Homo sapiens: one gene and its partners. The protein of the gene in region 7 purifies or fractionates together with the protein of the main gene of each other region. This does not show direct contact. Each region holds a gene or a part of one and is shown on either strand. Other genes may lie near its edges. The genes, in order: ABL2, PRRC2C, RPAP1, STIP1, LUZP1, TTC1 and BAG2.

Region 1 (3,500 bases), on a different chromosome or scaffold from region 7:
GGAGTGACAGGTAGGACCCTGAAAATTTGCTGATGCGAGTACAGTGATGAACAAAGAACCTTCCAGAATAGACACAGATGACATGTATCACAATTCTGCTCCAAATATGGTGTGGTCTGAGGACAGTGCTGTGCCTGGCCTTTCCCCTTCAACACGCCAGCTGCTCCCTCAGAGTGAACAGGGCTTTGCTACTCTGCTCAGGTCAAAAGGTAAGATTTTTGTAGGAGAGGTAAACAATTTCAAAGTTAGAGATGTACATGGGGATGAAGAAGTAAGTGCACTTGGAGGGAAGGGTCCGGCGAGACCTCGCCAGGTGGGCTTGAGAAACGCAGCAACTGCCAAGTGAACACTCTCAGGAAACCACTTCAAGTGGCGGATTCTCACAGATGGAGGATCTGGCCACTGCCATCTGAGAAGCTCGTGTCTACCAGCTCTAGTTCAATAATCATGCAAAATCAACCCAGCTGACAAGTCTTTTCCTCTCTGAGACTCATGAAACCCATCTTTGAAGGCACAAATCTCCAAGGGTGGCCTCTCAGCAGTTTCTGCCATTCCAAGTCAGCTTTGAATCATGACCTGCCACAGGCCTCCTTACCTGGGAAGAAGTATGGGATCTTCTTATCTTGATCCCACAGGGTGAAGCCTTCCCTAATTTCCTGTCCTTTGGATCTAGGATATTGAGTCAGAAATGAAGGTATCCTTTTTTTTTTTTTTCTTCTTAACGTGTCTCACTCTGTCACTTAGGCTGGAGTGCAGCGGCGCGATCTCAGCTCACTGCAACCTCCGCCTCCTGGGTTCAAGCAATTCTGCCTCAGCCTCGGGAGTAGCTGGGATTACAGGCATGTACTACGCCCGGCTAATTTTTATATTTTTAGTAGAGACGGGGTTTCACCATGTTGGCCAGGCTGGTCTCAAACTCCTGACCTCAAGTGATCCGCCCATCTTGGTCTCCCAAAGTGCTGGGATTACAGGCACGAGCCACTGTGCCCAGCCAAAAGGTATCATCTTGTACATACTCAAGATAGAATACATACCTCAGAGAGGTGGCATGAAAAGCAGAAATTCATCCGTCTGCACATTGCAATAAACTTCCCAAGAGACAGGCTGGACTGAGTCATGGGGGTGAGTGCTCCAGAGTAGGCTGTAGCTTGTCCCACAGCCCTGAATCCCACCCATGCTTCTCAGTAAGAGAGGAGCGTAGGGAATGACAGTGAAGTTCAAGTGAACTACAGTTGTGCTGAACAGAGCAAGTAACAATAACTATTACTACTGGCTTGCTGGAAAAAAGAAAAAAAAAGCAAGCTTTGCATTAGAATTTCTTTTTTTTTTTTTTTTTTTTTTTTTTTTTTTTTTTGAGACGGAGTCTCACTGTCACCCAGGCTGGAGTGCAGTGGCGCGATCTGGGCTCACTGCAAGCTCCGCCTCCTGGGTTCACGCCATTCTCCTGCCTCAGCCTCCCCAGTAGCTGGGACTACAGGCGCCCGCCACCACGCCCAGCTAAGTTTTTGTATTTTTAGTAGAGGTGGGGTTTCACCGTGTTAGCCAGGATGGTCTCAATCTCCTGACCTCGTGATCCACCCGCCTCAGCCCCCCAAAGTGCTGGGATTACAGGCGTGAGCCACCGCACCCGGCCAGAATTTCTTTAAGTCTAGTAGTTGGAAAACCAGAACTCTATCCAAATGATATAGATATCTTGACTGTTAAGAGTTGGAGACGTTTCAGAAGTTCTCACATACTCCTACGGATCCCAGACTGAAGCAGGAATTTACAAAGGAAGTGAGCTACTACTGGCTTGATACAAGCTAAGACAGAGACACAAACCGCTGAAGCCTATCAATACTTAAGCCAGAGACCCACCTACAAAAAGAGGATTGGTCATAGCAGATCCTTAGGGCACAGAGATGAACCCCAAATCCAGGTGGAACAATTTAATGCAAGATGATGAAACTCAAAAATCAAGAACAAAAATATAGATAACCCTGTCAACCCAATATGAACTCCTGGTAGGGGCACAGCCTGATAACAAGAATGACATCAGTAGCAAAATGGAAGGGAGCAGAAGGGGTCATAATGAAATGTAGCTATAATTCAGAAGTGGCCACCAAGGCAATTTACTTTTGAGTATTTTATAATAGGTGAATTAAATTCAGCTATTCTTTTTAGAAAAAGAAAAAAAAGATGACAAATGTCAATGTCATTTATAACTGGTAGGAAATCCTAGAAAAGTAATTCCCAAAGTGCACTGGTTTTATGGCCATCCACCTCCCCCTGTAAACCTAACAAAACTATGCAGGACATAGGTTAAAAAAGACACTGTCAACATCAACAGATAACAAGTCTGTTCCCACCACATTTAGGATAAATGGCCAAGCATATAGTGGATAAATGGAGAAGAGTAAGAGGACCTCATCCTTCTTGAGTCAAGGTCCTTGGAAGAGCTTCTGTGTTCTGGAGTGAGTACACATTCTTACTTTTTAAAGATCGGAATTAAACCAAAAAGTTGGTCCCTAGTTTCCTGAAGTAATTCAGCTCTGAACTACAACTTTAGCAAACACTTGCTATACCTGCTCATACCTGTTAAGCAGTTTCATATTTCTAAATGTGATAAATGACAGAGGTGATTCTTACGTATCTACATTTTCAGGTACCCCACAGGGTCCATCCACATTGAATCAACTGTCTTATCTTTTAAACAGACAATACTACAACCTTATAGTTATATTACAGTTGATATTTTCTCAAAGTGCTGTCATATACATTATCTCATAGTCATTAAAATAATGTGAACAATAAAGTTTTTTTAAAGAAAAGGGAATGTAGGACTAACTAGGTTTTTTAAAAACTCAAGTTGGTATTTCTTTACTACAAAGTGCACATTGCTGTGTTGCTGAGGTCTGTCCAAAAGAATGACCCCATTGAATTTTTTAAATGACTGAATTCTACTGAGTGCTTGCTTGGCTTGTGTTCCCATTACTCCACATTCAAGCCCCTTAAGGTCAAAGTGTCAGGAGCATGTGCTTTAGAAAGTGTGCAGCACCACACAGGCTGATTGTCGGTCTGAGCCACTTTTTTGCAGTGTCTCACATGGCAGCAGGTATGGTGGAAAGACCCCACAACCATAAAGTCAAGAGACTTGAATTCTAGCCTTGGCTCCGCCACTAATTAACCGTTCTGAGACAATAGGCAAGTAATTTAACCATCTTCTGCTAGTTTCTTAATCTATAAACCAAAGGGTTGGGGTACTGATAGTTTTCAGATAGCACTGGGTGTTTCAAACACCTGGCGAGATTACTGGAGAATACACTGGCCGAGACCCCAGCCCACTGGGAATTCTGATCTGGAGTGGGGCTATTCCGTCAGTTTTTTTTGTTTGTTTTGTTTTGTTTTTTAACCCTAGGGGATTCTGCTGTGCATCCCTAGACTAGGTGTTAATAATAGTAGTAGTAGAACATTTATAGAGTGTGCTCATTGTGTGCCAGGCACTTGAGCTAAGTATCTTA
Region 2 (3,500 bases), on a different chromosome or scaffold from region 7:
TGTGTAGTGTTTCTGAAGATCATTCCAATTTAGGACTGAAGCATAAATCTGGTTTCCTTCTATTTAATTTAGCATGCTACGCTTACTCTTTGGACATATTCTCTGTATTCATTAGGGCATTTTGTAACCTGGTTCTGTACTCAATTGTATGCTGTAATTTAGTATTAGATGTTGAAATTGGTAGGTTCTTTTTTGAGATAGGAACTTGCTCTGTTATTCAGGCTGGAGTGCGTTGGTATGATCTTGGCTCACTGCAGCGTTCACCTCCCAGGCTCAAGTGATCGGCTTACCTCAGCTTCCTGAGTGGCTGAGACTACATGCGTTCACCACCACACCCCGCTAATCTTTGTGGGGTTTTTTGTTTTGTTTTTGTTTTTGTTTTTGTTTTTGAGACAGAGTCTTGCTCTGTCTCCCAGGCTGGAGTGCAGTGGCGCGATCTCAGCTCACTGCAAGCTCTGCCTCCCGGGTTCACACCATTCTTCTGCCTCAGCCTCCTGAGTAGCTGGGACTACAGGCACCCGCCACCACGCCCAGCTAAATTTTTGTATTTTTAGTAGAGACGGGGTTTCACCGTGTTAGCCAGGATGGTCTCGATCTCCTGACCTTGTGATAATCTTTGTATTTTTTATAGAGATGGGGTTTTGCCGTGTTGCCCAGGCTGGTCTTGAACTCTTGGGCTCAAGCAGTCTGACTGCCTTACCTCCCAAAGTGCTGGGATTATAGACGTGAGCCATCGTGTGCAGCCACTTGGGATGTCTTTATTGTAGAGTAGGTGTGAAGAAATTTAGGTGTATCTACAATGCTTATATAATATAGCTAGATGTAATTTTTCCATTAGTGAGATGTTTCTTTTTAACAGTATTTTAGGGAACATTTTTAAGGCCAAGATAAGGAGAAATACAATAATACAAAGTTAACTTTGAAATGGCGCACAATTGGTGATGACTGTAATAATTTATAGCCATACAGTTGGAACTTCCTGCCCTTTTATGGGCTATATTTTTTTGGTAATGTTTTATAATGTTTTATAATTATTTGTAATTAACTGGGACAGATAAGCTTACTCAAGTGTACTCTTTCATTCTAGGTGGAAATTACTGGTCTTGATGGATTAGAAATTCACATCAGCATGGTCTTAACTTTGTTTTTCCTTAAGGAATAAACTTCATTTATTTATTTCTATTTTTTATTTTTATTTTTTGAGAAGGGTCTCGCTCTGTCAGCCAGGCTGGAGTGCAGTGATGCAATCACAGCTCACTGCAGCCTTGACCTCCCAGGCTCAAGTGATCCTCTCACCTCAGCCTCCTGAGTAGTTGGACTACAGGCATGCAGTACCATACCCGGCTAATTTTTGTATTTTTTGTACAGACAGGGTTTTTTCATGTTGCCCTGGCTGGTCTCAAACTCCTGGGGCCCTAGTGATCCTCCTGCCTCCCAGAGTGCAAGGATTACAGGCATGAGCCACCGCTTCAGGCCCATTTTTTTTTTTTTAATGGAGTTTTGCTCTTGTTGCCCAGGCTGGAGTGCAATGGTGCCATCTCAGCTCACCGCAACCTCCGCCTCCCGGGTTCAAGCGATTCTCCTGCCTCAGCCTCCCTAGTAGCTGGGATTACAGGCATGTGCCACCACGCCCAGCTGATTCTGTATTTTTAGTAGAGACGGGGTTTCTCCATGTTGGTCAGGCTGGTCTCGAACTCCCGACCTCAGGTGATCCGCCCTCCTCGGCCTCCCAAAGTGAGGATTGGGATTACAGGCGTGAGCCACCGCACCCGGCCCTATTTATTTTTAATTGTGGCAGAAACCACTTAGAACATTAGATATATCCTCTTAACAAAAATTTAATCATATGGTACCATGTAGTTAACTGTAAGCAGTGTTATACAGCAAATCTCCAGAACTTTTTTTTATCTTGCATGACTGAAACTTTATACCTATTTCCTATTCTTACCTTTACCTATATTTCCTATATTTACCTTTACCTATATTTCCTATATTATACCTATACCTATATTTCCTATTTCCCCCTACTCCTAGCCCCTGGCAGCCACCATTATGGTTTCTGCTTTGATGAAGTTGATTATTTCATGTTCCTCATGTAAGATATTTGTCCTGACTGACTGACTTCACTTAAGCATAATGTCCTCAGGGTTTATCCATGTTGTAGCATATGACACTATTTCCTTCTTTTTTATCCCTGAATAATATTCTATTGTATGTGTATACCACATTTTCTTTATCCATTCAGCTATTGGATATTTAGGCTGTTTCCACCTCTTGGCTATTGTGAGTAATTCTCCTCTAAACTTTTTATATAGCGAGAGAAAGATTCTCATTATGGTTAAGAGTCATTGCTTTCTGTTTTAGAGGGATTATTTTGCTATATACTTACGCATGGGAAAGATTGCTTTGTTGATTATACCTTTGAATTCTTATCATCATAGGTCTGAAGCTGCGTTGGACCAGGAACAGATTACTGCTGCTTATTCTGTAGAACATAATCAATTAGAGGCTCACCCAAAGGCAGACTTTATCAGAGAATCAAGTGAGGCACAAGTACAAAAGTTTTTAAGCAGATCTGTGGAAGATGTTAGACCTCACCATACTGATGCAAATAATCAGTCTGCTTGTTTTGAAGCACCTGATCAAAAGACCTTATCCGCTCCTCAAGAGGAGCGGATTTCAGCTGTAGAAAGTCAGCCTTCCCGGAAAAGAAGTGTTTCCCATGGATCTAACCATACGCAAAAACCAGACGAGCAGAGAAGTGAACCATCTGCAGGCATTCCTAAAGTAACCAGCAGATGCATTGATTCAAAAGAACCAATAGAAAGGCCAGAGGAGAAACCAAAAAAGGAAGGCTTTATACGATCTTCTGAAGGACCAAAACCTGAAAAAGTATATAAATCTAAATCAGAAACTCGTTGGGGCCCACGACCAAGCTCTAACAGAAGGGAAGAAGTTAATGATAGACCTGTGAGAAGATCAGGTCCCATTAAAAAACCTGTACTTAGAGATATGAAAGAGGAACGGGAACAGAGGAAGGAGAAAGAAGGAGAAAAGGCCGAAAAGGTCACTGAAAAAGTAGTTGTAAAGCCTGAAAAGACGGAAAAGAAGGATCTTCCTCCTCCCCCACCACCACCTCAGCCACCAGCACCAATTCAGCCACAGTCAGTTCCACCACCAATTCAACCAGAAGCAGAGAAATTTCCTTCAACAGAAACTGCAACTTTGGCTCAAAAACCATCTCAGGATACTGAGAAGCCTCTGGAACCTGTGAGTACTGTTCAGGTAGAGCCTGCAGTTAAGACTGTAAACCAACAGACTATGGCAGCACCAGTAGTCAAAGAAGAAAAACAACCTGAGAAAGTCATCAGCAAAGACCTTGTTATAGAGAGGCCTCGACCAGATTCAAGACCAGCAGTTAAAAAAGAATCAACTTTGCCTCCCAGGACCTATTGGAAAGAAGCTAGAGAGAGAGATTGGTTTCCAGATCAAGGATACAG
Region 3 (3,500 bases), on a different chromosome or scaffold from region 7:
GCCGGCTGTCCACCAGGCCCCCGCACCCTGCCTTCAGCTACATTCCACCCGTTGCTCCCTCTCTGTGTCCATCTCTCCACTCCTACTTCCCCATTTACTATCTTCCCTTTTAATTCCTACCCTTCCTCCTCTTTCTACCTCCATATCCCCGTGGAGCTTCCCAGGAGCCATGTTGGTGGGGACCAGAGAGCCCACGCAGCAGCTCAGCCTTCCTGTAGCCTGTGTGCTCCCTCTTTATGCCCCCTACACATCGGGGCCTTCTCTCCCTTCAGAAGGCTCAGCCTGCAGAAGCCTCCAAATGTGCTCTTTTGGGCTGTTGGGATGGTGGCATTGGCCTGGGTACACAGGGTCTAGGAGAATGAATGGCTGGGCCATCAGCTCAGTGAATTCCTTGGTCCACCAGCCAAGCTCATGCCCGGAGGATTGGCTCCAGGACATGCAGCGCCTGTCAGAGGAGCTGCTGCTGCCACTGCTGAGTCAGCCCACACTGGGCAGCCTGTGGGATTCCCTTAGGTATGTACTGTGTTTGGTAGCTGGGGGAAGCAGGGGAGGAGGCAATTTCTTTCCTTGTGGGATTCCTGGGTCCAGCTCCCAGGTCCATCCCAGGGTGCAGGCCCTCGGCCCGAGGGAAACCCGAGTCCCTAGCAGGCAGCAGTGGGGTGGGCTCTGAGGAGTGTGAGCAGCACTGACCTCCACAGCCAGGCCCCCCGTTAGTCTTAGGTACAGACCCAGAAGCTCTTTCCAGCTTGGCACACGCCAGGCCAGAGTCCCCCTCAGACTCTCCACTTCACCTACAGGCACTGCTCCCTTCTCTGCAACCCGCTGTCCTGTGTGCCAGCCCTTGAAGCTCCCCCCAGCCTCGTGTCACTGGGCTGCTCGGGAGGCTGCCCCCGTCTCAGTCTGGCTGGCTCAGCCTCACCCTTCCCATTCCTCACTGCCCTCCTCTCTCTTCTTAATACCCTGGCCCAGATCCACAAGGGGCTGTGTGGCCAGGTAAGTGTGGGGTGCCTGATTAGGGGCCAGGCAAGGGGCCAAGATGGCAGGAATCAGAAAGAAAGTGGGAGGGTGGGATGGGCGCGGTGGCTCACGCCTGTAATCCCAGCAGTTTGGGAGGCCGAGGTGGGCAGATCACCTGAGGTCGGGAGTTCGAGACCAGCCTGGCCAACATGGAGAAACCCCATCTCTACTAAAAATACAAAATTAGCCAGGCATGATGGCACATGCCTGTAATCCCAGCTACTCGGGAGGCTGAGGCAGGAGAATCACTTGAACCCGGGAGGCGGAGGCTGCGGTGAGCTGAGATCACACCATTGCACTGCAGCCTGGGCAACAAGAGCGAAACTCCATCTCAAAAAAAACCAAAAAGAAAGTGGGAGGGTGTCCCATGGGGAAGGGAGGCCTTCTGCTGGCACTCATTTCCCTGAGTCTGGAGAGGGGCAGCCACCTGGGGAGCCCTAGAAGGCATGAGAGTCAATTTCTAGATCTGAACAAAATTGCTTTTCCTCAGCTGGCTGCCATATTGGCTGCCCCGGGACTCCAGAATTACTTCCTCCAGTGTGTGGCTCCTGGGGCTGCCCCACACCTCACACCTTTCTCTGCATGGGCCCTGCGCCATGAGTACCACCTGCAGTACCTGGCACTCGCTCTGGCCCAGAAAGCGGTAGGTCCCCCTGTCTGACAGGTTCTCCTGTCATCCCATTATCTCCTTCCTGTTTCTGTGGAACCCAGCCTGCTTCTGCCAGGCCATGCAGCTCCCACTTTCCTCCAGACATGCCCTGGACCTCTGCCCTTCAGCCTCACTTTTATCCTCTTCCTCACTTCTCTCTGCCACGTCCCCTTCTCCTGTACTAGGTAGTTCCCTGCTTTTCTGTCTGCAGGCAGCGCTGCAGCCACTGCCAGCCACCCATGCTGCCCTCTATCATGGTATGGCCTTGGCCCTGCTGAGCCGGCTGCTGCCCGGAAGTGAGTACCTCACCCATGAGCTGCTGCTGAGCTGTGTATTCCGGCTGGAGTTCCTCCCGTAAGTGCTTGGTTGGTGGCATCAACTCAGCCCTTTTGGACGCTGCTGCAGTTGTTAACAGAGCAGCCCTGAATTTGGAGCCAGGAGACCTAAATTCTCTTTCTTCCACCGACGACACTTAACTCTTCCGAGCTTCCATTACCTCATTAGTGAAGTGAGGATCAGGCTAACCACACCCAAGAATGATTGTGAGACTTCAGTGTGACTGCATGGCTAAAAAAATGGTATCTAAATCAGTTACACACATGTAATAGCCATCCGCTACTGAGTGTTTACTCTGTGTTTGATACTCCCTTATGTATTTATCTACATTTTAAGTATTTTACTTGGACCATGAGATAGATACTATTATTATCCTTATTTTACTCTGAGGAAACTGAGGCCCAGAGAAGTTATGTAAACTCATGCCTAGGCAGCTGGCTGTAGTGTGCATCCTCTTAACTGCTACACAGCACTGCGCGGGAAGTAGTTAAGGGAGCAGAGAGGCACAGGTCTGGACCTAGGAGCCTCCAGGAAGTTCCAAAGAGCTGGCACAGCCTCCAAGTGCTGTGGTTCCAGCCCTCATTTTTGGCTTTTGGGTCCCATTACAGGGAAAGAACATCAGGGGGTCCAGAGGCAGCCGACTTCTCTGACCAGCTGTCGTTAGGAAGCAGCAGGGTCCCTCGGTGTGGGCAAGGGACTCTGCTGGCTCAGGCCTGCCAGGACCTCCCCAGCATCCGCAACTGCTACCTGACTCATTGCTCGCCAGCCCGAGCCAGTCTGCTGGCCTCCCAGGCTCTGCACCGAGGGGAGCTACAGCGAGTCCCAACCCTGCTACTGCCCATGCCTACGGAGCCGCTGCTGCCCACCGACTGGCCCTTCCTGCCACTGATTCGCCTCTACCACCGGGCTTCAGACACCCCCTCGGGACTCTCTCCCACAGACACCATGGGCACAGCCATGCGGGTCCTGCAGTGGGTGCTAGTTTTGGAGAGCTGGCGCCCCCAGGCTCTCTGGGCTGTGCCCCCTGCTGCCCGCCTGGCACGGCTCATGTGTGTGTTCCTGGTGGACAGTGAGCTGTTCCGGGAGTCCCCAGTACAGCATCTGGTGGCAGCCCTCCTCGCCCAGCTCTGTCAGCCTCAAGTCTTGCCAAACCTCAACCTGGACTGCCGACTCCCTGGCCTGACGTCTTTCCCTGACCTCTATGCCAACTTCCTGGATCATTTTGAGGCTGTCTCTTTTGGGGACCACCTCTTTGGGGCCCTGGTCCTCCTGCCCCTGCAGCGTCGGTTCAGTGTCACCTTGCGCCTTGCCCTCTTTGGGGAACACGTGGGAGCCTTGCGAGCTCTGAGCCTGCCTCTGACCCAGGTACTTTCTCAGCCCAGCAGGACCTGCAAGGGTACCCTGCACTGGGCCTCGGGGGCAGTCCTGAGCCTTGAGGAGCTTTGGAAGACCTCAGCTTCCTCATCTTACCTCTTGGGGGCTTTGAGGGGATTAAGAG
Region 4 (3,500 bases), on a different chromosome or scaffold from region 7:
AATGGCGTGAACCCGGGAGGCGGAAGCTTGCAGTGAGCCGAGATCGCGCCACTGCACTCCAGCCTGGGTGACAGAGCGAGACTCCATCTCAAAAAAAAAAAAAATCAGATTAGGATTTTAATTTTCAGAGTATTGCTGGCAAGATTTTTTTCTTTTTTTTTTTTGAGATAGAGTCTCGCTCTGTCGCCCAGGCTGGAGTGCAGTGGCGCGATCTCGGCTCACTGCAAGCTCTGCCTCCCGGGTTCAACGCCATTCTCCTGCCTCAGCCTCCCGAGTAGCTGGGACTGCAGGCGCCCACCACCATACCAGGCTAATTTTTTTTATTTATTTAGTAGAGACAGAGTTTCACCGTGTTAGCCAGGATGGTCTCGATCTCCTGACCTCTTGATCCGCCCACCTCGGCCTCCCAAAGTGCTGGGATCGCAGGCGTGAGCCACTGCGACTGGCTATTGCTGGCAAGATTTTTTTTTTTGAGATGGAGTCTCACTCTCACCCAGGCTGGAGTGCAGTGGCATGATCTCGGCTCACTGCAACCTCCGCCCCACTGAGTTCAAGCGATTCTCCTGCCTCATCCTCCTGAGTAATTGGGATTACAGGCGCCTGCCACTGCGCCCAGCTAATTTTTTCGTATTTTTAGTAGAGACGGGGTTTCACCATCCTGGCCAGGCTGGTCTTGAACTCCTGACCTTGTGATCCACCCACCTCAGCCTCCCAAAGTGCTGGGATTACAGGCGTGAGCCACTGCACCCGGCTATTGCTGGCAAGATTTTAAAAGAAATTTACAGTCTTTATAAAATAGTCAAAATGTTATGTTACAAGAACTATTAACATTCTCAATGCACAGGCCCTCAATATTAACACATTTAGGGTTGAAATCTTGGCCAATACCAAAAACTGCAAAAAAAAAAAAAAAAAAACCACAAAAAAAAACACCAGATCACTTCCTACATGTTGTCACTGTTAAATGACAGAGAAAGAATCATGTAAGATGACCAAAGCCACTACCTAAAAAAAGATCAGGTTCAGCCAGGCATAGTGGCTTACGCCTATAATTCCAGCACTTTGGGAGGCTGAGGAGGGCGGATCACTTGAGTTCAGGAGTTCAAGACCAACCTGGGCAACACAGTGAGACCCCTTCTCTACAAATAAAAAAATTAGCTGGACGTGGCCAGGCGCAGTGGCCTGTAATCCCAGGACTTTGGGAGGTTGAGGTGGGTGGATCATGAGGTCAGGAGTTTGAGACCAGCCTGGTCCATATAATGAAACCCCATCTCTACTAAAAATACAAAAATTAGCCGGGCATAGTGGCGTGCACCTGTAGTCTTAGCAATTCGGGAGGCTGAGGCAGGAGAATTGCTTGAACCTGGGAGGCGGAGGTTGCAGTGAGCAGACACCATGCCACTGCACTCCAGCCTGGGTGACAAACAGACTCCATCTCAAAAAAAAAATTAGCTGGACGTGGTGGCACGTGCCTGTAATCCTAGCTACTCAGGCTGAGGTGGGAAGATCACTGAAGCCCAGGAGGTTGAGGCTGCAGTGAGCCACGATTGTGCCACTGTCTTTCAGCCTGGGTGAAAGAGTGAGACCCTATCTCAAAAAAAAAAAAAAGTCAAGTTCATTATTAAATAAAACAGTAAGAAACAATGGCTCAATTATTAGGAAAACAAGAAAATACCCCTATTCTTTTCCTACGCACCTGCTGGCATTTCTTGAGCACATCTGGGGTTCGGTGCTCTGCCAGAGACTTGTTATAGAAATGGATGGCATCCTTGTACTTTTCTTCTTTGAAGTAGGAGTTGCCAATTCGAGCATATGCTCTGATAAAGAAAGAGGGACAAGGACTGCTTAGGACAGAGAGATAAAGTCAGCTCCTGCAGAAAAACACACCTGCAGCTAGAAAGGCCCGCATCACTGCCTTCAACACCTTTTGTCTTGTCTCTGGTGACCTTCTTGCCAGCCCTTTCTTAACACAGCAGATTCTATGGCCAGCAGCCCTCCTCCCCATGCAGAGAAACTTAAGTCTTGGACAGCAAACCCTCCGCGCTACTCAAGGTATTCTGGAAGGTTGAGCCTACTTGGCAATCTGTCGATAGTCTTCTCGGTTTTCTCTCCCCACTTCAATGGCCTTCTCACAAAGCTCCCGGCACTTATTGTAGTCGCCCTTTTCAAAGTATACCGCTGCCAGGCAGGATGGTTAAGAAGGAACAGTCAGTCTTTGCTTCCTCCCTCAGAGACACCCAACAATTCCCTTGCCCCTTGTTTCTGGGCCTCACCTGCTTGATTGGTAATGTAAGTCATGTTAGTGGGGTCCAGCTCCTTGGCTTTGTCGTAATGCTTCAAGGCTGTGTCAAAGTCTTTCTTCTTGTAGGCATCGTTCCCCAGCTCTTTTTCTTTCAGTGCCTAGATGAGGTTTAGAAGTGAGTGCTGAGCAAATCTAACTCAGGTGACAAAGCAAGAATCTATGATCTGTCACAAGTTCTGAAATGCAACTAACATGAATAGAATTCTATCAAGTTCTCCTGAAGGCCTCTTCATCAGTCAGCTATAGACAATAAAGTATCAGCCGTTAGAATGAAAACTAACTTCATCTTTGCTTGCTCTGAAACTCCCCCTTTTCCACCTACTCTCCTAGATCTTTGTCAGGAAGCAGAGCGCTTCTTTAGGGGAGAGGAAATCCCTTCGACTTGAAGCAACCGGTGAGGACAGCAGAGTTTTGGACCAGGCTTTATTCTGAGGCTGCAGCAGATCTGGTGTCAGTCTTGTGGTTGCCTCAGGGTCTTAGTTGTCAGGGAACCATAGCAGAGGGGGTGGTGAGAGGATGAGAAGCGGCTGAGTGGCACGAGTCTTCAGCAAAGCTCACTACCGCCCACACTGGAGGGCCTTTTTCCAGCTGAGACACCCTAAACAACCAACGCTTACCCATTTCAAGGTGCTAAATTTGGCAACAATCTGCTGTTCCAGTTTACAAGGAGGGAAATGAAATCGTTGAGGCACATGCCTTCTGCTCTAAAAGAGTGCTGCTTAGCGGACACTCCCAACCACACACCATGTCCAGCCAGGAAGCAAAGGCCTAGGGATTGATGTGGACAACATTCTTCGGATCACGACAAGGACGTGAATTACTCTCAACTTTCCAGTCTTGCTAGGACCAACATTCACACTGGCAGCAATGAAGCCGCTGTGGTGACCACGGGAAGGGCAACTCCCGCAGCTCACTCTTTGCTACACATTACTCCTAGGAATGCTCTTGTGAAGCTTTTTTTTTTTTTTTTTTTGAGATGGAGTCTCGCTCTGTCACCCAGCCTGGAGTGTAGTGATGAGCTCTCAGCTTATTGCAACCTCTGCCTCCCGAGTTCAAGCGATTCTTCTGCCTCAGCCTCCCGAGTAGCTGGGACTACAGGCGCCCACCATGACACCTGGCTAATTTTTGTGTTTTTAGTGAAGATGAGGTTTCACCATGTTGGCCAGACTGGTCTTGAACTCCTGACCTCAGGTGATCT
Region 5 (3,500 bases), on a different chromosome or scaffold from region 7:
CCATTTTATGTTAGTTTCTCAGGACAGATAGGTTCTAGACCACTCAGATGGTATAAATTTGAACTCTGAATTCAAGTGAGAGCAGGTCTAAGATTATAAATTCTCTAGGGATAATCCTCCTTTAACCCCTAATAGAGCCCGGGTCCTCTTATCTCCCTATATCAGGGAGGTGACTTTTTTCACTAGTTATCCTGGAGCTGTAGTTCTTCAATAATCCTTGCTTTAGATTGGGGACTGGAGTCTCATTTTCAACTTACCACCTCTATTGAGCCCAAACTCTTGCCTCTTATACCTGCATGATTGTTAGAACCCAAACTCCTTGGTTCTGGAGATCGGCAAGACCCTAAGAAGGACAGCTCAGTGGTAGTTTAAACTTACTATTATTTTTCATTTAGTTTTCTTTTCCTCTGGTTTTAGCTGGAATGTCACTTACTTTCTATGTGATCAACTATACATTTTAAGTGATTGTTACATTTTATTCAGTATTTTTAGCTGTTTTATAGTATTAGAGGTTTTCCAGGTTATCTGGTTTGCTGTAGTGGTGGAAATGGAAGTCTGTTGTTTGCCTTTTAATTTCGTAGGACTTATTGTTCATGAAAGCTGTTTAAAATACATTTATCAATCCATTCTCCTGTTTTAAAAATGAGAAAATTACATAAAAAAACTAAACCTTCCCCTTTCTCTATTTCCTTGGGGTATTATTATATGTTTGGTATATATCCCCAGTGAAATGGCTTTCAAAGAAACAAACCAGTCTTCATACCAACCTTAACATCTGGGGCATTTCTTTTACAGTGCAAAAGGATATGTTTTGTAGAAGCTGCCTGTTGGCTGGGTCGGGCCAACTCACACCTGAATTCCACTTACAAATATACTTTTGGGAGAAGAGATGTTGAAAATGGGTGTAGAGAGATTGTTTTAGTATATTGTGAAGCTCACCATTTATAGCAAGGCAGAGGGTTAATTTGTATCACTTTTAAGTCACAATAGCTCATAAGAGATAATCTTTAAAAAAAAAAATCTTAGGATTGTTTATTGCTTTGTTACCAAGATCTTCCACATATTATCTCAGAACAACACTGGGGAGAAATACGGTAGACATCATTATGCCCATTTTACCACTAAGTAAAACTGAGACTTAGTTTCCATTGTTAATGACTCTCCTGAGATTATGCAGGTTGCAGATGGTAATGATGTTATTATACCCTGCCATGAAAATTGAGGCTTCTTATATGTCTTTTTGCCATGCTGCCACTGGTGACATTCTTTATTAGGGCGAAATGAGGTATCAACTCAATATCGGCCATAAAGAACCAGTGTTTTCTTGCAGGTTTATTCAAGTCATTCATTCAACAGGTTTGAGCCCCTGCTATGATCCAGGCACCAGGAACAGATAGGAGCACTTTTCTATAACTGGGAGCTAACGTGCAGGTTTTACATTTGCTGACTGACATGCTTTCTACTTTCCTTTTGTAGATTGATGATGGTCTCCAGCTGTCAAAGAAGATTGTGGTTGCCAAGAGAAAGGTAACCATTTCTCATCCCCTTGAGTGGAATTGGATGCCTCTAGGAGCCCACATTGGCTGGCAGTAGACATGGCCGAATTTACAAGCTACAAGGAGACGGCCTCCAGCCGCCACTTGCGGTTTAAGCTACAGAGTCTAAGCCGCCGCCTTGATGAGTTGGAGGAAGCCACAAAAAACCTCCAGAAAGCAGAGGATGAACTCCTGGATCTCCAGGACAAGGTGATTCAGGCAGAAGGTAGCAACTCCAGCATGTTGGCGGAGATTGAAGTGCTGCGCCAGCGGGTGCTGAGAATTGAAGGCAAAGACGAGGAAATTAAGAGAGCAGAGGATCTGTGTCGTCTGATGAAGGAGAAACTTGAAGAGGAAGAAAACCTCACCCGGGAGCTGAAATCTGAGATTGAGCGGCTTCAGAAACGAATGGCTGAATTAGAGAAGCTAGAAGAGGCCTTCAGCAGGAGTAAGAATGACTGTACCCAGCTGTGTCTGAGCCTGAATGAGGAGAGAAATCTGACCAAGAAAATCTCCTCTGAGCTGGAAATGCTCAGAGTCAAAGTGAAAGAACTAGAATCTTCTGAGGACCGCCTGGATAAAACTGAGCAGAGTTTAGCGTCAGAGTTAGAAAAGCTGAAATCATTAACTCTGAGCTTTGTAAGTGAGAGAAAATACTTGAATGAAAAGGAGAAAGAAAATGAGAAATTGATAAAAGAACTCACTCAAAAACTAGAGCAGAACAAAAAAATGAACCGAGATTATACAAGGAATGCTTCTAATCTGGAAAGAAATGACCTACGGATTGAGGATGGCATCTCTTCCACACTGCCGTCCAAAGAATCAAGAAGGAAGGGTGGTCTGGACTACCTAAAGCAGGTAGAGAATGAAACAAGAAACAAATCAGAAAATGAAAAGAACCGCAATCAGGAAGACAACAAAGTCAAAGACCTTAACCAAGAGATTGAGAAACTTAAGACACAAATCAAACACTTTGAATCGTTGGAAGAAGAGCTTAAGAAAATGAAGTCCAAAAATAACGACCTTCAGGATAATTACCTAAGTGAACAAAATAAAAACAAATTATTAGCCAGCCAACTGGAGGAGATAAAGCTACAAATCAAGAAACAGAAAGAGTTAGAAAATGGAGAGGTAGAAGGGGAAGATGCTTTCCTGTCCAGCAAAGGCAGACATGAGAGGACTAAGTTTAGAGGCCACGGAAGTGAAGCTTCTGTGTCCAAGCACACAGCGCGGGAACTGTCTCCTCAGCATAAGCGGGAACGACTCCGGAACAGGGAGTTTGCTCTCAACAATGAAAACTATTCTCTGAGCAACAGGCAGGTTTCTTCTCCCAGTTTCACCAACAGGAGGGCAGCAAAAGCTTCTCACATGGGGGTGAGTACAGACAGTGGGACTCAGGAGACAAAGAAAACTGAAGACCGGTTTGTACCCGGCTCCTCCCAGAGCGAAGGGAAGAAGTCTAGGGAGCAGCCCTCAGTGCTGAGTCGCTACCCCCCGGCTGCTCAGGAGCACAGTAAAGCGTGGAAGGGGACTTCCAAGCCAGGCACCGAGAGCGGACTGAAGGGAAAAGTGGAGAAGACAACACGAACGTTTAGTGACACCACCCATGGATCTGTTCCCAGTGACCCATTGGGTAGAGCTGACAAGGCTTCTGACACCTCCTCTGAGACTGTCTTTGGCAAGAGGGGACACGTGCTTGGCAACGGAAGTCAAGTAACTCAGGCTGCAAACTCTGGCTGTTCTAAGGCCATTGGAGCCCTGGCCTCATCTCGAAGATCCTCCTCAGAAGGGCTCTCTAAAGGCAAAAAGGCTGCCAATGGCCTTGAGGCTGATAACAGTTGCCCGAATTCCAAGGCTCCTGTTCTATCGAAGTATCCTTATAGCTGTAGAAGCCAAGAGAACATCCTTCAGGGATTTTCAACCTCACATAAAGAAGGGGTTAATCAACCTGCAGCAGTTGTGATG
Region 6 (3,500 bases), on a different chromosome or scaffold from region 7:
CTATATTCCACAGGATCTCAGAAGCACTGTTTTCCATTCATAGGATGAAGGTTTTGAGTTAAAAGATGGTAACAGTCTATTAAGTCTGGCGCAGTAAAAATCATTTCTTCTTTTCTTCTCTCTTTAAAGGAACAGTGCTTGCTTGTGCCAATCTCACAGGCTGTGCTTGGTGAACTGACAGCTGAACATGCTGTCAGTGACAAGCCCTCAATACTCAGGAGTCCTGGCATTCCCTCAATGTTCAGTTTTCATTTGGCTGGGCAATTCAGAAAGGAGTTTTCAAAGGAGGTTACAGAACTGGACAGAGGAAAGAGACTAAACTCTGGGATCCATGGCCTGAGATAAAGAAAAAAATTATACATATTTGTTTTCATTAAATCTGTTGTGCTTTCATACAGTCAACCTGGCTAAAACAGCATCCGTGAAATGTTTGAAGAGAGACATTTGATAGAGCTAAAAGGAACAATGTAAAAATCAATATTTAAATCAAGACCTTAAAAGAGAAAATGGTGAAAAAGAGAATTATGGTCAGGATACTAATAGAAAATTGCCTATGTACTCCTTTCTCAGGTTTGAAATATTTAATATTAACATACAAAAAATATGCTTCCAAAATTAGAAGTGTTTATTCTATTAGAAAACAGTATTAATGATTACTAAACCAAGATATAGGAAAAAAAAAAAAACCCTAAAATCTGAAATCAGGTAATAGGGTAACTTTTGGAAAACAATAAGAAAAAAATTAAAAACCTGAAAATAACTAGCGGAAAATGTTAACACTCCTAGATTTCTGAAGCATATACACTTTAAGATGTGACAGAAGACTTTTGCTCTAAGATCAAATAGTTACCCCAAATTATCAGAATGAACCCCACCAACTTATTTCTAAGCAAATGTAGAAAATGCAGAAGGACATGAAGAATCTCCCTACTTAAGGCATCCAAAGAAAATGGCACATGAAAGAGCAACCTTTCTGAAGCAGTTTGGAGAATTTAAAAAAAGAAAGAAAGAAAGAAAGAGCAACCAAAGGACAGGCAGCCCTAGGCCATACCAGAGCAGTCAGGCTGCTTTCACAGCCCCACAGCAAGTGAGGAGCGGCGACTCTGCTTTCACAGCAATGCAGCACATAACCTTTAATATTCCAGGTTAGTGTTTTCCAAAGCAAGAGCTCAAGAGTTTTACCCCTGATTCTAGACTAACAGATAGTGGATTACAGAAAGACTATGCATGTGCCAAGAGACAAATGGTAACTGGTCACCATCAGATGAATAATTTGGCCTGGTTAAAAACTCAAAATGCCAAGGTACTGGGAAGCAACACTGTATTGTGAAGTCTGGTTTTGGGGTTTCTTCAGATGTTCTTTGGGGTTTCTTCACAGACTCTACAACAGGATGAGGAGTCAAGATGACCAGATTATCAGTGCTGAAAGTCGTCTTACCTCCTTTCTTAAACTGTTCATTTCCCTCCTCCTTTAGTCTAGTGCTCTCTTCTCTTCTTTTCTGAAAGACATCAGAGAATTACATAATTTCTCACAATATTATTATAAGTGAACAAAAAGGTGAGCTTTCCTTATGCACAAGTCTATTTAATAGGCAACAGTCTGACTTTTGAGAACTGCATCAGTTTCACCAAAACCTTGTACAGTGATAGAGGAAAAAAAACACATGACCATCAGGCTAATTATCAATTGCATTCTTGATGTTTAAAACAAAAAATGTAGGTCTTCTTGGCATGTCCTTTGCTTTCTATGTTTCTATCTTTTGCAATGGAATGATAATTACAGTATCACTTAATTTCTACTTACTCAGAAATGAAACTAAATAACATACCCACTGGTGTGCATACCAGTGTAAATTCAAATTGTAGCTTCTAGTACTTACTAGTTATGTGGCCTCGGACAAGTTTCAGAATCTTTCTGAGCCTTAGTTTCTTCATTTCAAAAATGAAGCTTTAATAGTATTATGGACTACTGTTTAATGGATTAATGTCATAATATACATAAAGCTGCCCATACAGTGACTAGCAAATAAGGGCTCAATAAATAAGCTATTATTTTCTGTGAAATAAGTACTTTAATCCTTATAAGAACCCTTCATGGTTTGTGTCATGAAGGAGACACAGTATGCTAGGAGAGCACATTTGTGGGTACAAGCCAAGTCTGTAGGGTTAGGGCAGTATACTGTTAGCAGGTTAACATAGGAAAATGTGAAGAAACCTAAATAAATAAGTCTGTCTTTTCTTAGCTTATTCAAACAACTCAGAAACTCACATAGATGGCCAAAAACTCATCAAACACAAAGGCTGAGAGAATGTTATCCTGCAAAGCAAAGTAGACGCATGCTGAGTGTGTGCACTTTTTTGTGGAACATCTTAACAATATAACTGGCACAAGCCAAACCAGAAGAGTCTGTATGCCTGCCACCTTTTGACAGTGCTTTAAAACAAAAACAACAAAAAAACCCCAAAAACAGAAAATCTACCAAAGTCCCTTAAAAAAAAAAAAAAAAAAAAAGAGATAGGGTCTCACTATGTTGTCCAGGCTAGAGTGCAGTGTCTATTCACAGATGTGATCAACACACACTATAACCTTGAACTCTTGGACTCAAGTGATCCTTCTGCCTCAGCCTCCTGAGTAGATGGGACTATAGGTGCACACCACTGTGCTGGGCTCTTTCCTCCTTCTTGAAGCTTCTGATTAAGTAATTTCAAAGGGAGGAAATACAGTTAGCATTCTGATTAAGTAATTTCAAAGGGAGGAAATACAGTTAGCAGGGTATTTCATGCACAAGAGAAGCCTGGAACCTAAACAATTGGTCCTTTTAACATGAGGAACTGATATGATCTGTGTTCCTACCCAAATATCCCCACGGGTCAAGGGACGGACCCTGGATCATGGGGACGGTTCCCCCATGTTGTTCTCATGATAGTGAGTTCACTTTCATGAGAACTGATGGTTTTCAAGTGCCACACTTTAAAACCATCAGCTTTCTCTTCACTTTCCGCCATGATTGTTAAGTTTCCTGAGGCCTCTATAGCCATGTGGAACTGTGAGTCAATTCAACCTCTTTTGTTTATAAATCACCCACTCTCAGGCAATTCTTAATAGCAGTGTGAAAATGGATTAATACAGGAACCAAAATAAAAACATTCTTTCTCTGGAAAAGATTTGTCAATATGCTATTGATGAGACCGGGTATTTCCCAAATGTCTTATTATTACACTATGGATTAAACAGAGCACTTGATGAATCTCAGTGAGGAAACTAAAAGGTAAGTATAGAGTGAATCTAATTTTTATGGTACATACTATGTGCCAGACACACAGCAGGTACAAATAACAATTCATTTTAAGATATAACGTATCTGAGGGAAGGGCTATTCTAAAGGAATTCAGAAAAAAATAAAATATAAGAATATGGCCATATTTACCTAGTACTACCCATAAGAAAGATGCTTAGATTGTAATGATCTCTACTGTATTGATTAGGGTTACTGGATGCA
Region 7 (3,500 bases):
AGTCTTATGTTATAGTTCCTGGCTCATAACTCCCATAACCCTTATTACAGTCTTACGTTATAATGTTGGGGTGCTTTAGGCCTCAGGAAAAAGAATCTCTCTCTCTGACCTTCTTTCACCTGCCTTACCTCTAGTCTGATTGTGGGTCAAAAGACTCTCGTTCCAGAGAGGGTCCTGCCCTATGCCCTGGAGGAGGGCATTTAGCACCCAGAGGCCAAGAAGAATCTGAATAGACTGGCCTTGCTGGGTTTCCCCATTCAGTCTGTTAGAGTGAGGGCATACTCTTTTTGTCCAATCACTTTTCTACATGGTTGTCATTCATGCTTATATAAAAGAAGCAAGCCTCCATAAGAACCCAAAAAGGACAGGGTTTGGAGAGCTTCTGGATAGCTGGACATGTGGAGGCTCCTGGAAGGTGGTGTGCCCCTTCCCCCTGTACCTCACCCTACACATCTCTTTATCCATGTCCTTTGTAATACCCTTTATAATAAATCCGTAAATATAAGTAAGTGTTTCCCTGAATTTTGTGAGCTGCTGCAGCAAGTTAAACCCAAAGAGGGGGACATGGGAACCCCAATTTGAAGCCAGTTGGTCAGAAGTTCTGGAGGCCTAGACTTGCAACGGTGGAGGGTGGGGTCTTGGGGACTGAGCTTTCAACTTGTGGGATCTGATACCGTCTCCAGGTGTAGGGAGTGTTGGAACTGAGTTGGGGGATACTTAGCTGCAAATCCCCCACATATTTGGTCACAGCCTTCTGTGTTGTTACAGTGTGAGAGCAGAGGAAAAACACAGTGTGAGAGTTTTTTCTAAAACACAGGCTAATGTTTATTCATTTAATGTACACGGACTATGTGCCAGGCCCCATGTCGTTGTTACTATTATCACCATTCTACAGATAGGGAAATTGAGGCTTAGAAGCTTAAATGACTTGTCCAAAGTCACACAACTAGAGAGTAGTAAACTCCAAATTTGAACCCAGGAAGACTGGCTCTCCAGGCTCTAATACTTTATGCCTGAATTTTCTTAAATATATCACATTTCAAAATATAGAAATGATATATGGATGAATAGATGAGCTTCCTCTAAGAGATAAAAATTCAATCTAAATTGGCCTTTAATTCAGTGGATATTGAACACCCACTATGTGTTAGGTATTGGGTAGCTCCTAGAAAGCTCAAGATGGTAATGAAGATGTTTGGGGGATGGGTTTTGGAGACTGGCAGAGGGGAAAATGATAGGACTGGGAGATTGGCTTTTCATATGTTTCCCAAAACTTATAACACAGTGGCTCCTTCTGCCTTCCTGTCAGCCTTTCACTGTGGCTTAACCTGCACCCAGGTAGTGAAGGGATGGGGTTGGGGGTGATAGGGATCATTCGTCTGGCTTAAAGTTTCATGTTAGGGTGTGCCAGTGTTCTAGGAGTCACAAAACAAGATGGCATCATAGTTAATACTGTGTGACAGCCTGTAATTTAAAAGAACACTTCATATATGTTATTTGAAACTTTAAGAACCCTTCGAGTTAGGTGGAGGGCACATACTCTCTCTCCTAGAAATGAGGGAAGTGAGGTCCAATTAGGATGAAGTGGCTTGCCTGAGGACATGCTACTGAAAAGTGGCTCTTCACACTAAAAACACTAGTCCCTTCTTTTACACCAAAATGTCTTGACAGTAAATGTAATTTAACATTTTGGTGATTAGGAAAACACTTCAGAATTTTACATTGCCTAAAAGTGATCATTATAGCATTCTTTTGATATAGGAGTATGGAATAAGAGACAGAACTATGAGTTTTAAGAACCTGTTTTAGGCCAGGCGTGGTGGCTCACTCCTGTAATCCCAGCACTTTGGGAGGCTGAGGTGGGCAGATCACCTGAGGTCAGGAGTTTGAGACCAGCCTGTCCAACATGGTGAAAACCATCTCTAATAAAAAATTCAAAAGTTAGCCAGACGTGGTGGCGCATGTCTGTAGTCCTAGCCACTCGGGAGGCTGAGGCAGGAGAATCACTTGAACCCTGGAGGTGGAGGTTGCAGTGAGCTGAGATCACACCACTGCACTCCGGCCTGGACGACAGAGTGAGACTCCATCTCAAAAAAAACAAACCTGTTTTAGAAATTATTTCTTTCAAATCATGGTATGAGCATTTGCCATTTTCCCTCCTTTTTATGAAAGCACAAATTTTCATCATTAATAAATAAGCCCACATTCATAATGGTAAGAATATAATAGCTATTAATACTATAAATATATGCCAGTGCCAATTCTAGACACATTATACATATTAACTTGTGTGTGTGTGTAATTTTTTTAGTCAGTGCTATCAGTCACTGTTAAACTCTACCTGCTTTACTTCATTTAGTCACAAGCACTGTTCCCTTATCATCCCTGTTTCATAGGCGACTGACCCATTTGCACAGCTAGTAGTGGCAGTGCTGGCGCAGTTTTCACTGCATACTCTATTAGCTGACATATTAATAGTAGCCACAGTTTGCGCAAAATTGCTGTTGTACTCCTCCTAAGTCTCCCAGCAGTTTGCCGTTTCGATACTGAGACTGCAGAGGTTTGTGAGGTGCCCAAGACCTGGGTACTAGCTGAGGATGCATGCGCTCCGGTTTTGTCTTCCTACTGAGTACTCTGACTAAAATTTCTTTTTGTCAAAGCCTACTTAGTTGTGATTTCATGCAGGGAGTTTTCCAGGAGCACAGCCCAGGCCAGCCTTGATGTGAGGAAAAGTTCTTTCCCAATTTGGACGTGTAGCTGCTTCCGGGATCTGTTAGTAAAAACAGAACTGCCCTTCTCCGCCAGAAGTGTTGCCAGATGAGATATTAAGAAACATGAAGGATAAAGTGAGATGGTCCAACATTTCTCTAACCAGAGTTCCAGACGAAAATAACAGAAGGGGAGACAGGGAATATTCAAAGATACAACAGCCAAGAATTTTCTAGAACTAATGGAAAAATTGTAGACAAAAGACGTGTATATGAGTTTAAGGATAGCAATAGCTGACAAACAGTACAAACGTTACTTAAACTAAGTAGAGATCTAGGTTCAGCTTTTTAAAAGAAAAAATGTAAAATATGAGGTAGACATATTTTAGACTGTAGAGTAAATGGATGTACCAGGGCCAAAAGGAGCATGAATTGCCTTAAGGGAGAGGAAGGGGGAAGCTAAGGAAACAATTCCTGCTGAAGCAATTGGGTTTTGAAAAAGGTGATCCCAGTAGACAAGGGTCAGGGAGAAAGAATGCTACCTGAAGAGGGAATAGGACATGAAAAGCCCATGTTGCCAAATAAACCCTGAGATCTTTACATTTTGAAGAATGACATTTTACCCTTGCATGAAATGAAAAAGGTATACATAAAAATGTATATAAGAAGTTCTATAAATGATGAAATCTGGTTTTCACAGGGATAATGCCCTGGTAATTTCTATTATGTATTAAAAAAAGCCTTGTGGGATGGGGGTGGGGGAGGGTCCCTAAAACACAAACTTTAGCAGTT

The links.
Region 1: the proteins of BAG2 (region 7) and ABL2 purify together in Homo sapiens (co-immunoprecipitation; 2 studies listed by BioGRID and IntAct, with this or other methods). This does not show direct contact.
Region 2: the proteins of BAG2 (region 7) and PRRC2C purify together in Homo sapiens (affinity purification with mass spectrometry; 2 studies listed by BioGRID and IntAct, with this or other methods). This does not show direct contact.
Region 3: the proteins of BAG2 (region 7) and RPAP1 purify together in Homo sapiens (affinity purification with mass spectrometry; 2 studies listed by BioGRID and IntAct, with this or other methods). This does not show direct contact.
Region 4: the proteins of BAG2 (region 7) and STIP1 purify together in Homo sapiens (affinity purification with mass spectrometry; 3 studies listed by BioGRID and IntAct, with this or other methods). This does not show direct contact.
Region 5: the proteins of BAG2 (region 7) and LUZP1 purify together in Homo sapiens (affinity purification with mass spectrometry; 3 studies listed by BioGRID and IntAct, with this or other methods). This does not show direct contact.
Region 6: the proteins of BAG2 (region 7) and TTC1 purify together in Homo sapiens (affinity purification with mass spectrometry; 2 studies listed by BioGRID and IntAct, with this or other methods). This does not show direct contact.

Annotation. Positions count from the first base shown.
Region 1 is NC_000001.11:179,100,678-179,104,177, forward strand, and holds part of ABL2 (tyrosine-protein kinase ABL2), read right to left. Parts: 3' UTR 1-3,500. UniProt on the Homo sapiens protein: Non-receptor tyrosine-protein kinase that plays an ABL1-overlapping role in key processes linked to cell growth and survival such as cytoskeleton remodeling in response to extracellular stimuli, cell motility and adhesion and receptor endocytosis.
Region 2 is NC_000001.11:171,537,530-171,541,029, forward strand, and holds part of PRRC2C (protein PRRC2C), read left to right. Parts: intron 1-2,441; coding exon 2,442-3,500. UniProt on the Homo sapiens protein: Required for efficient formation of stress granules.
Region 3 is NC_000015.10:41,520,258-41,523,757, reverse strand, and holds part of RPAP1 (RNA polymerase II-associated protein 1), read left to right. Parts: intron 1-403; coding exon 404-513; intron 514-797; coding exon 798-993; intron 994-1,507; coding exon 1,508-1,660; intron 1,661-1,877; coding exon 1,878-2,020; intron 2,021-2,610; coding exon 2,611-3,367; intron 3,368-3,500. UniProt on the Homo sapiens protein: Forms an interface between the RNA polymerase II enzyme and chaperone/scaffolding protein, suggesting that it is required to connect RNA polymerase II to regulators of protein complex formation.
Region 4 is NC_000011.10:64,196,171-64,199,670, reverse strand, and holds part of STIP1 (stress-induced-phosphoprotein 1), read right to left. Parts: intron 2,401-3,500; coding exon 2,274-2,400; intron 2,179-2,273; coding exon 2,076-2,178; intron 1,818-2,075; coding exon 1,697-1,817; intron 1-1,696. UniProt on the Homo sapiens protein: Acts as a co-chaperone for HSP90AA1. Mediates the association of the molecular chaperones HSPA8/HSC70 and HSP90.
Region 5 is NC_000001.11:23,092,357-23,095,856, reverse strand, and holds part of LUZP1 (leucine zipper protein 1), read left to right. Parts: intron 1-1,476; 5' UTR 1,477-1,595; coding exon 1,596-3,500.
Region 6 is NC_000005.10:160,033,139-160,036,638, reverse strand, and holds part of TTC1 (tetratricopeptide repeat protein 1), read right to left. Parts: intron 1,500-3,500; coding exon 1,439-1,499; intron 1-1,438.
Region 7 is NC_000006.12:57,175,326-57,178,825, forward strand, and holds part of BAG2 (BAG family molecular chaperone regulator 2), read left to right. Parts: intron 1-3,500. UniProt on the Homo sapiens protein: Co-chaperone for HSP70 and HSC70 chaperone proteins. Acts as a nucleotide-exchange factor (NEF) promoting the release of ADP from the HSP70 and HSC70 proteins thereby triggering client/substrate protein release.